Linked DNA regions of Homo sapiens: region 1 is linked to region 2. A link means that fine-mapping ties the variant in region 2 to the expression of a gene that starts in the linked region. Tissue or cell type: caudate. Region 2 holds a variant in brackets; the other region holds the start of a gene. All regions are shown on one strand. Distances are from middle to middle.

Region 1 (8,000 bases), 430 kb after region 2:
CATGGCCGAGGCCCCGGCCACCGCCCGGCTAGGCGCCCCATCCCCAGCCCGTTCCCCCGGCGCCGCCGCAGACACCCCAGAAGCCCGCTCCGCCGGGCCTCGGGGACCGCCCGAGCCCCGCTCCCCGGCGCCCTCCAGCTCGGCCAGGTCCCGCCCGCCGCGCGACTCCGCGCGCGTCCCGCAGCCGCCCACTTCCGCCCCGCACCGCCCAGGTCCGCCCGCCAACCGGCCCCCGGGAAACGCCGCCGGGGCCGCGCGCAGGTTCCTGGGAGCAGCGCCCTCACCCGGCGCGAGAGACCCCGCCCAGCCAGCCCAGCGCGCATGCGCCCACCCGGTCCCGCCCGCGCCCGGGCTTTCTGGCAGAAGAGGGCGGGTGAGGGCGTGGGGGGCGGACTCAGGGTCCGTCTGCTCCGGGAACGGACGTCGTCGCAGCCGAGTGAATTTCGTGTACATAAGCGTGGAAAACGCTCTTGCAGATCTCGCGGCAGCCACGCGCAGCGGGGACGTTTTGCCGGGGGTTGAGCTCCCCGCCCCTCTGCCCCGCAGGGGCCGGACACAGGCGCAGACTCCCTCCTGAGCGTGGGTTCCTCCGCGTGAAACGGGCACGAAGCCCACCCCGGCGCTGTCGCCAAAACTGAGATCTGAGCGCCTTCAGGGGGCCGGGGCCTGGCGGAGACCGGGCCCGCAGCGGGAGCGCGAGCGACGGCCGCCCTCCCAGGCACCGGGAGGCTGTGGCGCCCACCGAGCTCCGCGGAGCCGTGAAGGAGAGTCCAGGTTCCACAGTGTCCCTTCTTATCCCAGGCGGGTGGGCTCCCCGGGCCTCCCCGCCTCTCCAGCCCGCCGCCCTCCCGCAGGCTGTGCCGCGCCAAGCCCCCTACACACACCCTCTCTCTTTTCGGTCTCCGCTGCTGAAATTTTCTCTAGAAATTTCTTTCCCGCTGCCCAGCAAACTCTTGCTCTTCCTTGAAGGCTTCTTCCTCCACCACCTCCTCCAGGAAGCCCTCCCTCCTCAGCCCAGCTGGAGGAGATCGCTCCATCTTTCCTGCCGCTCCCACTCCTAGCTTTGGGTCTCACCAGGGGTGCCTGGTGGTGCAGCCGTGAGCAGAGCTCCTGTTCCCACAAGCCGGGCCGAGCTCCCAAGGCCATGGCTACCACAGCTCTCTTGCCGCTGGCCAAGTTGGTCAGCCCTAGGGCGAGGGTTCCAGTGCCTTGATCCAACCCCCAGCTGGTTCGGTGGCAGAGGAGGACAAGGGTCACAGCACACACACAATCCTGAGCCTGGGATTCCTCTCTGAGAAAGGGGGTGGTGCTGAGGCCACAGAAGCAGCTGCCCAGAGCCTTTTTGAAGGGGTTGAGCTCTGGGCCTGGTCTGGGTCCTGGGTCTGGGGAGGACCTGGGGAGGTGCGGGTGACGGCACCGCAGGTAAGGCTCCTGCAAGGTGGCAGCCTTGGGGCCCGACCCTGGGTAGGAGGGCAGGCCAGTGATGACAAGGGAGGCCCCAGCCAGGCGAAGTTGCAGGCAGGGGCAGTGCAGGGTCCCAGCAGGTGAAGGCCCCGGGAGTGGAGTCTGCAGGGCCCTGGGCCAGAGTGTTCAGGGCACAGGTGACTAAGCCCAGCCAGGTCTTCAGCTCAAGGCCTAGGGGAAGTGGGGCTGGGCCCTGGTGAGCAGATCCCTGGGCCCTTCCTGAGGTCTGGCCAGGCCGACCCCACCTGGAGGTGGCGGCTCAGGGCATTTGACGCCTCCTTCCCAGTTCCCTGGCTCGGCAAGCAGCTGACCCTCAGGTGGACAGCAGCTAGACCAGGCCCCTGAGTGACACGGCTGGGTGGGGGTGTCCCACAGAGCCCACCTCCCATCTCGCTCCAGGCTAGAGCTCAGGGTCAGTCACAGGCTGCCACCCTAGAGAAGAGAGCACCTTTCAGGGGCAGCTGAATGGAGACCCCTCAACAGGGAAAGCCGGAAATGACCCAGCGGCAGCCATATCTCTAGGACCGCCCCCGGGTGAAGGACAGACAACTGCACACCACAGAGCTCGGGAAAACCAACAGCATCTCAGTGTAGCGGGGAGATGGGCAGATGGGGGATCCAGGCTGGGCCAGCCTTGTCCACAGCCCATAGAAGGGTTGGCCAGCCAGAAGGGTGCATCGGGGTGCCCAGAGGGTCAGAAGGCCAGGCTGGGGCCCCAAGTCCCAGGGGAGGCCTGGGAAAGCCCCGGGGGAGGCCATGGTTCCACTCGGTGGCCGGGCCAAGCAGGTTGTGCCCAGCTGGCTCTAGAGCGTGCAGAAGGGGCCTGTGTCGTGGCGCTTGGGTCTGCGTACACCCTGGATGACCACGCCAGGCGCCGAAGGGAAGCGTGAGTTGCAGTCCTCCACGTGGTAGGCGGCTGGGCCAGGGGTTCGGGCTGCCGAAAGAGAAGGCTGGGAGCCCCACCCAGGTAGCAGCCCCAACTCAAACCTGGCTCCCAGTTCCCACCCCCGGCCCCTGAACCCTTGTCCTCACATTGCCCACCCATGCCCCATCCCTAGCCCTCTTCTCTCCAGGCCTCCTTACAGGTGCTGAGCCAGGAGGTGAACGCAGGGGAGCGGCTCATCGAGAAGGCCGGCGAGCGGGGGCTCTGCAGGCGGCTCCCAGGAAGGATATTGTAGGTGTTGGGGCCAGGGCATCTCTTGCCAGGTGCCTGCAAAGAGGCCTGAAGCAGGGACTGGGGCTGCACCCTGAGGCCCAGCCCCCTAGCCCCAGGCAGCCCTAGGTGGGTGTGGCCTTCAGGTGTCTTGGAAGCGGAGTGGCAGCCTCTGAAGCTGAAGGCGGGGAAGGCGGGCCGGCTGAGCAGCTGGTAGTGGGCTGGCGAGGGCCACTGCGAGGGGGTAGGAGACGGGCTGCAGGGCAGGGTGCTCCCCACGGACCCTCAGCCAGCCCCCCTTTGGCCCCACTGGAACCCCCAGCCCCCTGCCTGCGTGGACTCCCCGCCCCCTTCCTGCCCAGCCCCCAACCTTTTGCTCTTGGTCGAAGTCAGCTTTCTGCGTGAAGGGGCTTTCGCTCTGGAACCACAAAGTCTGCCATGCCCTGCGGCCACCGCCCTCTGTAGTTGGAGGATGGAGAGAGAGAAGGCTGGGAGCCCCACCCAGGTGACAGTCCCCACTCGAACCTGTCTCCCGGTTCCCACCCTCGGCCCCTGAACCCTTGTCTTCACAATGTCCACCCATGCCCCAGCCCTAGCCCTCCTCTCTCCAGGCCTCCTTACAGGTGCTGAGCCTAGAGGTGAACGCAGGGAAGGGTGGAGGGGCCCTCAGGCCGTGGGGGTTTCAGCACAGAGGCAAAGGCCCCCATTCCCAGGGTGAGGGACAGGCCCGGTGGTTGGGCCTCAGGGAGGGGACACACACCTCGGCCCTGGTGCTTGCAGCCGATGCTGTAGTGGGGGTGTGGGGAGGACTCTCGTACGGACGGGCTCGGCACCTGGTACCTGGTGGGGCTGGGGACTTCCAGGTCAGCTGTGATCAGGGGGCGTTGCTCCAGCACTGGCCACAGGAAGCAAGCTCTGGGCCTGGGCTCCTTTCAGCGGGCCCCTCCCACAGCCCCCCAAAGACCAGCTTGGGGGTGGGGTGGCCAGGACCCTCACTCACATAGTTCCCTCAGGGTCTGGGTGTAGGTGGGCAGGGACTCCTGGGGGGTGCCCGTCTGTAACCTGAGGCCAACTGGGATCTCCTTCATCTTTGGGGGCTGTGTCTCATCCCAGGCCATCCCCGGCTCCGGGCCCAACAACAGCACAGATGCCTTGGGCCTGCAAGGGAGACCAGCAGCCACTGTCTCAGCCCCCGGCCGCTCCCAGCCACATGCCCCACAGCCTGTCCCCTCTATTGTCCCTCAGCCCCCGGCTGCTCCCAGCCACGTGCCCCACAGCCTGTCCCCACACTGTCCCTCAGCCCCTGGCCGCTCCCAGCCGCCTGTCCCCTCTACTGTCCCTCAGCCCCTGGCCGCTCCCAGCCGCCTGCCCCACAGCCTGTCCCCACACTGTCCCTCAGTCCCCCAGCCGCCTGCCCAGCAACCTGCCCCCCACACTGTCCCTCAGCCCCCTGGCCACTCCCAGCTGGCCCGCCCCTTCTCCCCCTCTCCGCCAGTTACTGGGTGGGCTCTGGTTGTGTCTGCCTCAGGTGACCATGGGTCCAGTGTTTGCCTCCATTGATGTAAAAATTTGCCAGGAATTTCACTGCCTTCTGGTCAGAATTCATCATCAGAGTCTCCTGGCTCTCTTCCCCAACGGCACCACGGAGCTCTGTGACCTCACTGGTAGGCCCCTCTGTTGCTGGGACTCCTGAGGAAGACACATTGTCTGGCCCTGGAGGGGCTGCCCCGGGCCCCGACCCCTGGTGGGCCCCTCCCCCACTAACTAGATGATCAGCGGGTCCGCCTGGGCCAGGACCCCCAGCCTGCCCCGGTGACTCCTGGCCCAGCCCTCTCCCTCCCCGCAACCTTTCCAGCCTTCTCCCCTCTCCTGCACCCTGGGGTCTCCTGGGAGTCTGGGGTCCACTCTAGCAGGTCTGGGAGGACTGAGGCCTCAGCAGAGGGGGTGGAGGGAACAGGACCCACCGGCATCCACCAAGCCCTAGGAGATGCCCAGCTGTGTCTGGCCAGCCAGGACCCCCTGGGGGTAGGAGGGAGGGGCCCAGGAAGGCTCCCTGGAGGAAGAGGAGGAGCCGCCACCCCATCTGGATTTCCACTTAAGGGAAAAGCAAATCCACATCAGATGGGTCTGACACCAGAGGCAGGCCGGGCCTTGGAGCCCAGCCAGGGCTGGGGTGTGAGGGCCTACCTCTCACCTGGGGGCACAGAGGCTAGAGGGTGTCACAGATGGCCGGGCTGCCAGAGCTGCAAAGGAACAGCCAGCCTGTGTGAGCAAGAGCCCGTGTGGGCACCAGGGCCCTCACTGTGTGGTCTCTGGAGCTGACCACCAGTTGGTCCCAGCCCTGACCTTGGCCCAGAATCCACCAGGGCAGGGCCTGTGAACAGGGCCAACTTGGGGCCCTCCTCCGCCCTCTCTGGATGCCTCCCCTTCAGCACTGGGCCTGCCAGGCAGACAGATGGACACGTGCTTGAGGAAACACGGGTTTTATCTGGGCGAGGGGTTCACGCCTGTGCTCCGGGGCCCCTGCCCAGGTTGTGCCGGGTTCAGAGTTGACTGGCTGCCAGTGGAACAGAGTGTACTTTGCTAATGAAGCCCTTGTCATTGGACAGATAGGCTCCTCCAGGTCCTCCCTGCCCTGTAATAAACGTTGCCACCGTGAATGGTGCTGCTGGACATCCATCCTCTCCTTGAGAAGGTGCGTGGGGGAAATGCTCTCTCAGTGTCCGGCTCTGCGCCCACACCACCACAGCCGTCACAGAAGGAGGCCTCTGCCCAAATGTTGAGGGAGGGGGGTTGTTCCCCACACACCAAGCTGGGTGTCCTCTAATTCATTTCCTTCACCATTTACCTGGAGATGGTGTCAGATCCCACAGGGTGAGAGCTCCATCCCAAGAAGGCCTCCAGACACAGATAGGGGCAGGGCCTCCAGACACACACCAGTCGCAAGCCTGGGCCCCTGGAACTTCTGACCAACTAGCTTCAATTTGGGGTTCCTGTGACACCGTCTTTGGGTTAATTTGCTGGAGCCACTCATAGAACTAGGGAAGTTATGACGTTTACTGGTTTATTGTAAAGGGTATTGATTGCAAAGGATACCAATGAAGAAGCGTAGAGAGAGGCACGGGGAGGGGCTGGCGCTTCCATGTCCTCGCTAGTTGCCGCCCTCTGGGAACCTCCAGGTGTTCCCCTGTCCAGAAGTTCCCTGAGCCTCAGTCCTCTTGGGATTTTACGGAAGCTTCCTGATGTCAGCATTCCTGCCCCCAGGGCTTAGGTGGGACCTCTCCTGGAAGGGTCTTAAGACCCACAGTCAGAAAGGTGAGAATGTTAGCGTCCTGCCTTGGGGCAGGTGAAAGGAGGGCAGGAGGTAAAAGTCCCCCGCCCGCACCCCCCAAGCATCACCCACCCAACATTCTAACAAAAGGCCCTACCAAGGGCTATGGGAATATGGGAATTACCAGCCAGGAACGGTGGAGGAAAACCAGCGTCTACCAGAATGCCAGACAGCTTCTTAGGAGTGGAAGCAATGGTCCCAGTTTGCAGTGTCTTGTATGGACGTGATCCATACCAACTTGGTTTCCAGAAGGCACCACCCAAATTAGAGGCCCTTCTCACTGTGACCCTGCCGGCAGTAAGCCTCAGAAACTGCTCTCAACACACAGTCAGCATGTATGTGATTATGGTCCTGCTTTATGCCCTTATATTTACGGACTGCGGTCTTTTTTTCTTAAAAAGGTCATATTGGCCGGGCACAGTGGCTCACGCCTGTAATCCCAGCACTTTGGGAGGCCGAGGTGGGCGGATCACGAGGTCAGGAGTTCGAGACCATCCTGGCTAACATGGTGAAACCCTGTCTCTACTAAAAATACAAAAAAAAAAACCATATTAGTCTGCATTTTCCATGGAGGTGTTGTTTATATCTTTGTTTTGTGAGAGCTTTTTATGCTGATACCAGATTTGTTCATAGCACTTACTGCAAACTTTTTTCCAGTTTTTTAGTTTGCCTTTTAGTTGTTTTTTTGTTTGTTTGTGAGAAATGGTCTGGTTCTGTTGCCCAGGCTGAAGTGCAGCGGTGCGATCTCAGCTCACTACAGCCTCAACCTCCTAGGCTCTGGCCATCCTCCCACCTCAGCCTCCCAAGTAACTGGGATCACAGGCACATTCACCATGCCTGGCTAATTTTTCTTTCTTTTTTGTAGAGGTGGGGTTTCCCCATGTTGCCCAGCTGGCCTGAACTCCTAGGCTCAAGCAATCTGCACACCTCATCCTGCCTCGGCCTCCGAAAGCACCGCAATTATAGGCATGAGCCACAGTGCCCAGCCTTTCTTCTTTCTTTCTTTTTTTTTTTTTTTTTTTGAGACAGAGTCTCACTCTGTGGCCCAGGCTGGAGTGCAGTGGCACGATCTCAGCTCATTGCAATCTCCACCTCCTGGGTTCACGCCATTCTCCTGCCTCAGCCTCCCGAGTAGCTGGGACTACAGGCGCACGCCACCGCACCTGGCTAATTTTTGTATTTTTAGTAGAGACGGGATTTGACTATGTCAGTCAGGCTGGTCTCGAACTCCTGACATGATCTGCCTGCCTCGGCCTCCCAAAGTGCTGGGATTACAGGTGTGAGCCACCGTGCCTGGCCGCCTTCCTTCATTTTTATGGTTAGGAAGTCCTTCCTGTACAAAAAAAGAACAAAATTCAGGATTTGCTTAAAATGTAAACATAACACCCTGCGCCACATGAAGGGCTGGAGGGAGAGTTCGCACAGCCCTGCAGGCCGGGAAGCCCCTGACTCGAGCCAAGGCTCTGCAGCTGCAAGGCCTCCTGTCAGAGGAGGGGGCCTGGGGACTCCCTTAGCCTCACCCTGAGACTGGGGCTGGTGGCCTCCTGGGGGCAGCAAGAGCCCAGGCCCTTTCTGGAGGGACAGTCCTGTTTTCTGAGCTCTGAAGTTAATGGGACTTCCTCCCGGACCACCTGCCTCACCGCAACTCCTCCCCTGCCTGGCACCTGTCTGGGCCTCAGTGTCTCACCTGTGCAATGTGGGCCCTCACAGGGTTAGCGAGGTGGCCTGGCCCAGGAGGTGCCCACAATGCTGGCCCCTCACAATGGTTGCCCGGTGACAGGACTCCCCTCAGGGAAGGGAGCTGGATGCCGGGAGGGACTGGAGCCAGCAAGGCCAGAGTGAAAGCAAAATGACAACTACTCAGAAACACGATCTCTTCACGCCGGAGCCTCACTATGTCCCTGGGTGAGAGCCGGGAGCTCTGGAGGTGGCTGGGGCCAGGGCTGCAGGAGGGGGAGAATGGCTGGGGCCTGAGGCATGGAGGCCAGCTGTGAGGGGCCCAGAGCTGGACCCCAGGAAACTGAAGGCCACACCACGGGGCACTGCAGTCTG
Region 2 (8,000 bases):
GAATAAACAAAACACAGTATATATCCAGGAATGGGTTCTGATACCTGCTACAACCTGGGTGAATCTTGAAAACCTTATGCTACATGACATAAGCCAGACACAAAAGGACAAATATTGTATAATTCCACTTACATGAAATATCGGGTTTAAGCAAATTCAGAGACAAAAAGTCTATCAGGGGTTACCAGGAGCTGGGAGGAGGAAGATAAGAGAAGTTACTGTTTAATGGATACAGAGTTTCTGCTTGGGGTGATGAAAATGTTTTGGAAACAGACTGATGACGGTTACAATGGTTGTTATGCAACACTGTGAAGGTACTTAATGCCACTTAATAGCACACTTAGAAATGGCTAAAGTAGTAAAATTTATGTTAAGTATACTTTATCACAATAAAAAAACCAGCAAGGGGAAAAAAGATTTAGAGGTATACAAACAAACCTTACAGATGCAATCATAAATTTCTTTAATTTGTGGCTATGAGACCAATGCAATTATTAGAAAAGACTCCTTTAAAAGGAAAAATACAATGTATATGCAGTAATTCAAATCAGAAAATAATAACTTGTGGAGTAAAAAAACAGGACATAGCAAAATACCACATATATATTTTAAACATACATATAAACTTCCTGACGTTGACTAGTTATATCATAATTCAGTAAAAGAATGGCTTTGTACGCTGGGTATGGTGGCTCATGCCTACAATCCCAGCACGTTGGGAGGCTGAGGTGGAGATCGCCTGAGCTCAGGAGTTCGAGAGCAGCCTGGGCAAAGTGGTAAAACCCTGTTTCTACCAAAAATTGAAAAAATTAGCCGGGCCTAATGGCACATACCTGTGGTCCCAGCTACTTGGGAGGCTAAGGTAGTAGGATTGCTTGAGCCTGGGAGGTGGAGGTTGCAGTGAGCCAAGATCACACCACTGCACTCCAACATGGGTGACAGAGTAAGACCCCATCTCAAAACAAAATCAAAAACAACAACAACAAAAAATAATGGCTTTGTAGGAAATACACGCTAATGTATTTAGGAATGAAGGGGCATCTAGGCAACTTTCAAACGGCTCAAGAAAAACATCTCATTTATCACACTTGCAACTTTTCTATTCAGTTGAAATTATTTCAAATTAAAAACAGTTGGCCAGGCACAGTGGCTCACCCCTGTAATCCCAGCACTTTGGGAGGCCAAGGCGGGCAGATTGCTTGAGTCCAGGAGTTTGAGACCAGCCTGGGCAACATGGCAAAACCTCGTCTCTACAAAAAATACAAAAATTAGCCAGGCGTGGTGGCATGCTCCTGTCCCAGCTACTCAAGAGGCTGAAGTGGGAGAATCACCTGAGCCCGGGAGGTCGAGGCTACAGTGAGCCGTGACTGCAACCACTGCACTCCAGCCTGGGTGACAGAGTGAGGCCCTGTCTCAAAAAACAAGCAAAAAAACAAACAAACAAACAAAAAACAGTTAATAGGAAAAAAATGAAATATATACAAAGCAATATTATATTGTTGACGGGTTCAAGCATCTCTCTAAAAAATTAAAGGCAAAGATCTTGAAGGATATACATCAAACTCATCACAATACAAGCTGCGGGGGTGGAGAGTGAGGGGGTAGGTAGGGACATTCTGCTTGAATGGGATTTGATTTTGAAAAGATAAACTCGTGTCATTGTATAATTTTTTTAATTTAAATAAAGGAAATTAATAGGGAAAAAATAAAAACTATGCATAAGCCAATTACTTTAACATTCAAGTATAACCTTCCAAACATTTTTCTGTGCAAATACGCTGATAAAGGTATAATTTACACATATTATATAAATGAGATACTACACATACTGTTAGACGACCACTTTTCCCTTAACCAATATGAGCAAAAAAATCTACATCATAGCCAGTCATGATGGTGCACCTGTAGTCTCAGCTACTTGGGCTTGAGCCCAGGAGGTTGAGGCTGCAATGAGCCATGATTGTGCCACTGCACTCCAGCCTGGGCAACATAACATGACCTCATCTCTATTAATTAATTCACATATTCACACAGTCGTTAAATGTTTGGAAGGTTATACATGAATGTTAAAGGCACTGGCTTATGTATAGTTTTTACTCCCCCTCCCAGCCTTATTAATTCCCTGGGGGCACCAGCAGAAATTCTCACTGCTATTTAGCCTTATCGTAGCACCAAATAGCAGATCCGCTTTTACCTCAGGGACTCTGATCTCTTGTCTACAAATGCCATTTTAACAAAGATTCAAATAAGTGTAATATATTCTGTCTCTGAGCTTGTATCCCATAGTAGCAGCTTTACTGATGATTTTAATAAAGTCTATTAAATGAGAATGCCTGTCAAACAGTGACCTAACTAACCCATGTAACAGAAACACAATTTTGGCTTTTATGCTTATTAATATAACTGAATCTAGCTGTGGAAAGAACTAGAAACTGAAATAAAAGTGGTGTGCGAAAATCCTGCAAACCCAGAGTTAAGGCCAGGGCACACAGGCCCTTCCGCCTGACTCTCAGTTCCAACTGGTGCAGCGTGTGGGCACTCACTCGCACGTGCAGGGCAGCCCCTGCAGGCAGCGCACCTGTTCGCAGCTGGGCTGGAGTGACCCATCGTCCTAGGGGCCCAGCACTGCCTGTCCAGTAACAGAAATCACATCCTTCCCCACCTCTCCAGCCGTGGGGCCTGCGGGTCTCAGTGCAGCACTGAGACTAACAGAGCAGCCGTCATCCTCAGGGGGTTGGATATGACCCCAGGGACAGCTCACCGCCCACGGGGAAGGCGGCACACAGAAGTAAAGCCTCTCCAAGCTCCTTGTCATGTGAGGTGACAAGTGGCCTCTTTAGCAGAAGCTGATCTAAGCTGGTTTCTGCCACCTGGTGAAGAGGCCCAGGGTCACACCTCTATCTCAAGGCATCCCAGCGGCTAGCAAACTCTAGCACAGCCCTGCAACTCTGGCCGCCAGGGAGACGCTCGCTACAGCAGCCTGAACTTGGCTAGTTCAGGCTAAGATTTGAGAAAGATAAAAGTTCTCAGTCAAAAAATGACTTCTTAGAAATCATAAATTTTCCATCAAAAATAATAAACTCAGTATTTCCTCACATAACACATAAAGGTTGGTACTGGGGGGAAAAAACAACAGTTCACCTGACATTTTTAACTTTTTGAGATTTTCAAGTATTTAATAAATTCCAAACCCAGTGGCTGCTTTAAAGAGGACGATTTTGGCCGGACACGGTGGCTCACGCTTGTAATCCCAGCACTTTGGGAGGCTGAGGTGGGCGGATCATGAGGTCAGGAGATTGAGACCATCCTGACGAACACGGAGAAACCCCGTCTCTACTAAAAATACAAAAAATGAGCGGGCGTGGTGGGGGCGCCTGTAGTCCCAGCTACTCGGGAGGCTGAGGCAGGAGAATGGTGTGAATCCGGGAGGCAGAGCTTGCAGTGAGCCGAGATGGCACCACTGCACTCAAGCCTGGGCGACAGAGCGAGACTGCCTCAAAAAAACAAACAAACAAACAAAAAAACACAAAAACCGCGAGGACGGTTTCACTGTGAGGAGAGCTTCCCGCATCAGTGACCCGCCTCACGCTTACGTACCAGACACACTGCAAACTTTCCAGGGAATGAATGAGCACAATGTCTCACCACACAAACACCTGGAGGGGCACATGGACTTAGCAAAAGTCAGATCTGGTCAAAATACAGGAGGGAAAAGCAGAATGAGTGTGTGCGATCCAGAGGTGCAGGGGAGACTCGGATGCCTCGGCACCAGCTGTGCCTCATGGGAAACTGGAGACAGGAGAGAAAGTGGACGGGCGTGGGAGGCTTCCTGGGGACAAGGGAAGCCTGTGAAGGTATCAGGAAAGCAAACAGATGTCACCTGGACAAGCAGGGAAATTAGAAATACCAAGGCAGTGGACAATTCTGAATTGCTGGAGAGAAAAAACAACATATTTTGCTACTACAAATAACGAAGGAATTTTAGTCAAAGCAGTTTTGTACTGTTTTTGTATCAATAATATATTAAGCCAAGTTCCTCAGGATCTATAATTATATATTTTATAGGCCAAAAGAATTTGTGGGATGTGTAATGCAGCTACTACAAAGTTATAGCAAAATCCTGAGGCCTGGAGCTAAATACAATTCTCAGGGTTCCAAAGTAACCCCTGCACACTTAGATGCTGGTTACAGACACGCGGCAAAAACACTGAAAATGTGGCAGATTCCATCACCTGCCCCAGCAGGACAGCTCCCCGGGGACAGAGAACTGAACCACCC[A/G]GTTCTCCCTCCTTTCTTGCTTGCAGTTCTCAAGAAAAACTTTCCAATGTGCTGGGAATGCAACACCCTGAGATAAGGAGCAGCTGAGAGTGGCCTGGGCTTTGCTCCTGTCCCTCCCACAACAGGGTGTCCTAAAACTCAGTCCAGCGGGTCAGGTGGCCCCGAGTATAAAACCCAAAATAGCACTTTCGGGGTCTCCCAACTGCAGTACAACATAGGGCACACACAGATAATGCAGACAAGACCCCATCCACCCTGGCCACTTGCCTGAGCCTTGGGGGCCAGATCACCACGAGCCCCGGCATCTGCTGTCCCCTGCTCATCTGTGAGTGACAAGCCTGCTTCGTGCAACTCGCACGCAAGTGTCCGGCCTCACCAGTCTCACGCAGCGGCCCCAGTGTGGTGTGGGGAGCAGCTCGGGGTTAGGGTCTCACAGGTGGTGCCCCGCACACAGTGCACCTTCTTTGCATCCCCCCACACTGAGGCCTCTCTGGAAGACTGCAGTATCTAATTTCCAACTACCTTCTGCCATGGTTGCTAAGAAAACATGGTGCAGGACCATCTCACAATGGACAAACAGTACTGATGAAAAACACTGGTATCTCACACAGAACGTGAACAGTACAATCTACCTTTTCTCATGGACTATTCCTTCTGGTAAATCTATACATAATTTATTTCCATGCAAATTATGACCCACTTGATAATTGTTTTTTTGAGACAGAGTCTGGCTCTGTCGCCCAGGCTGGAGTGCAGTGGCACAATTTCAGCCCACTGCAACCTCTGCCTCTCCAGTTCAAGTGACTCTCATGCCTCGGCCTCCCAAGTAGCTGGGATCACAAGCGTGCACCACCACACCTGGCTAAATTTGTATTTTTAGTAGAGACGGGGTTTCTCCATGTTAGCCAGGCTGGTCTTGAACTCCTGGCCTCAAGTGATCCACTCGCCTCGGCCTCCCAGAGTGCTGGGATTATGGGTGTGAGCCACCGCACCTGGTCCCACCTGATGCTTTTAATAGCATAAGCAACTAAAAAAAAGCCACAAGACTTTCATCTAAAAACAGGAACACAATACAAGATACAGATACAACGTAGAGGCATTTCGCATCAGCAGGAAGGGGGAATACAATACAAGATACAGATACAACGTAGAGGCATTTCACATCAGCAGGAAAGGAGAATAATCAAACACTCACTGAGACACTGAGGCAGCTGGCTAAGTACTGGGAGGAGAAGGCCATCAGCATTGCAGATCAATGAGTGAAAGAATCATAAAACAATAAATCACAAAAACAGCAGGAAAAAATACCTGACAGCCCTGAAACAAGGAACTCCTGACTCTAGGCACAATGCCAAGGTCAGAAATCACAAAGGAAAAGCTTTACAGATTTAACTACCAAAATATTTCAAACATTTATATGGTAAAAATGAATAAATAAACTTTAAAACACAGAAAAAAATATCCAATGTATTTGGCTAAGTACAATAGCTTTACTTACTCTTAACTCTATAAGGAAAGAACTACAAATCAGTTTTTTAAAAAAGACAACATAAAAACGGGCAAATGAATTAAACAGGCATTCCCAAATGGCCAACAGACATACAGGAAAATGCTCAACCCCATCAGTGCTCAGGAATTAGTAAGAAGAGGAGGAAACACCTCCCAGCGCCTTCTGTGAGAACAGCATTACACAGAAAACAAAGGGAACTCCACATCAGTAACCCCTAACAAAACATCAGCAAATGAATGCAACCGCATGTCAAGAGGGTGCCACACTGAGGACCACCCGAGATGTATCCCAGGTGCAAGGCTGCTTGAACCTGAAGATCAATCGCAGCAGTCCCCTGATCCGTGGTTTTGCTTGCCACAGTTTCAGTTACCCACAGTCAACCACAGTCCAAAAATATTAAATGAAAAATTCCAGAAACAAACAATTTCTCAGGTCGGGCACAGTGGCTCACACCTGTAATCCCAGCACTCTGGGAGGCCGAGGCGGGCAGATCACGAAGTCAGGAGTTCGAGACCAGCCTGGCCAACATGGTGAAACCCCGTCTCTATTAAAAGTACAAAAATTAGCTGGGCATGGCGTGTGCCTGTAGTCCCAGCTACCCAGGAGGCTGAGGCAGGAGAATCACTTGAACCCGGGAGGCGGAGATTACAGTGAGCGGAGATCGCGCCATTGCACTCCAGCCTGGGCGACAGAGCCAGACTCCATCTCAAAAAAATAAAATAAAATAAAATAAGATAAATAAACAAATTCTCAGTTTTCAGCTGCACACTGCTCTGAGTAGCATGCTAACTCTGGCACTGCACCATCAGTCCTGCCCTGGATGTGAGTCCTTTCTCTGTCCCTGTGTCCATCCTGTAACCAATGCCCATCTGCCAGCTGCTGGGCAGCCGTCTCCCTCGTCAGATAGACAGATCACAAGACGCCGACTGAGTAGAGTGCAATACGTTTTTCGGGGGGAGCGGGGGGGGGGACATTCATATAACTTTTACTGTGCCTGATTTATAAACTAAACTTTACCATCGGTATATGTGTCTAAGAAAAAAACCTGGTATATAGAGAGTTCAGTACTATCTGTGATTTCAGGCATCAGCTAGGGATCTCAGAAGGTATCATCCCAGGTGAGTGAGGCTATCCCAACGCGGCGAGACAGGAACACCAGACAGAACACGCACGGCTGCACGCAGGGAACTGACACGGACAGAAAGCACATGATCGTGACAACGGAGGGAGAAAAAGCATTTCACAAAATTATTTCACAATAAAAAGTTCAACCTGATAAAGGATATCTACGAAAATCTTGTGGTTACCAACTTACTCAGCAGCGTTATGGTGAAAGGCCTCATGCTTCCCCCCAGCGATCAGGAAAAGCCATGGAGGTGCCACTTCCACAGCATTCAAACACTGTGCTGGGGGCTCTAGCAGTGTCATCAGGAGAGAAAAAACAAATCACAAGAAACAAAAATGGCCCCTAATCTTACCACCAACAGTAAACATCTTAGTATATCCCTTACAGATTTTTTATATTAGTGGATTATATACTAGTTTTTAATCTATTTTTCCACTAAACCTGATTAAGATTTTGACAACATTATTATTATTATTATTATTTTTGAGACGGAGTCTCGCTCTGTCGCCCAGGCTGGAGTGCAGTGGCGCCATCTTGGTTCACTGCAAGCTCCGCCTCCCGGGTTCACGCCATTCTCCTGCCTCAGCCTCCTGAGTAGCTGGGACTACAGGCGCCCGCCGCCACGCCCGGCTTTTTTTTTTTTCTTTTTTTGTATTTTTAGTCGAGACGGGGTTTCACCGTATTAGCCAGGATGGTCTCAATCTCCTGACTTCGTGATCCGCCCGCCTCCGCCTCCCAAAGTGCTGGGATTACAGGCGTGAGCCACCGTGCTCGGCTGACAATACTATTTTTTTAAGATACACAACAGTGTTGTGTTATATAGTAACAGCACAATCTACCCAACCAACTCTTTTTGTCAATTATAAACACCACTGTGGCTGACTCTGTGTACCCCCTTCATTAAAAATGCCTAGTCCTGGCTAACACGATGAAACCCCGTCTCTACTAAAAATAGAAAAACTTAGCCGGGCGTGGTGGCGGGCGCCTATAGTCCCACCAACTCGGGAGGCTGAGGCAGGAGAATGGCGTGAACCCGGGAGGCAGAGCTTGCGGTGAGCAGCCCGGACGAAAGAGGGAGACTCCATC

What was found. PIP is the estimated chance that this variant, and not a neighbour inherited with it, causes the effect.
Region 1: it holds the start of STPG3, and the variant in region 2 is fine-mapped to the expression of STPG3 in caudate (GTEx, PIP 0.95).

The regions. Positions count from the first base shown.
Region 1 is chr9:137,247,513-137,255,512 of GRCh38, reverse strand. STPG3 (sperm-tail PG-rich repeat containing 3) reads right to left here and starts at 4,227. Exons shown (of 6, transcript NM_001004353.4): 1 at 4,117-4,227; 2 at 3,618-3,775; 3 at 3,378-3,512; 4 at 2,988-3,076; 5 at 2,548-2,851; 6 at 2,030-2,398. The coding sequence starts at 4,226. The coding sequence ends at 2,268. CIMIP2A (ciliary microtubule inner protein 2A) reads left to right here and starts at 7,762. Exons shown (of 7, transcript NM_001001710.3): 1 at 7,762-7,853. The coding sequence starts at 7,798. It overlaps NELFB (negative elongation factor complex member B), which reads right to left and starts at 186. Exons shown (of 13, transcript NM_015456.5): 1 at 1-186. The coding sequence starts at 147. STPG3-AS1 (STPG3 antisense RNA 1) reads left to right here and starts at 2,016. Exons shown (of 4, transcript NR_038389.1): 1 at 2,016-2,350; 2 at 2,538-2,638; 3 at 3,007-3,122; 4 at 4,146-5,294. It also overlaps LOC124902316.
Region 2 is chr9:137,677,468-137,685,467 of GRCh38, reverse strand. All of the region lies in intron 1 of EHMT1 (euchromatic histone lysine methyltransferase 1), which reads right to left. LOC124902319 (a long non-coding RNA gene) reads right to left here and starts at 5,055. Exons shown (of 2, transcript XR_007061886.1): 1 at 133-5,055. The variant A/G (reference allele first, on the strand shown) is at 4,279.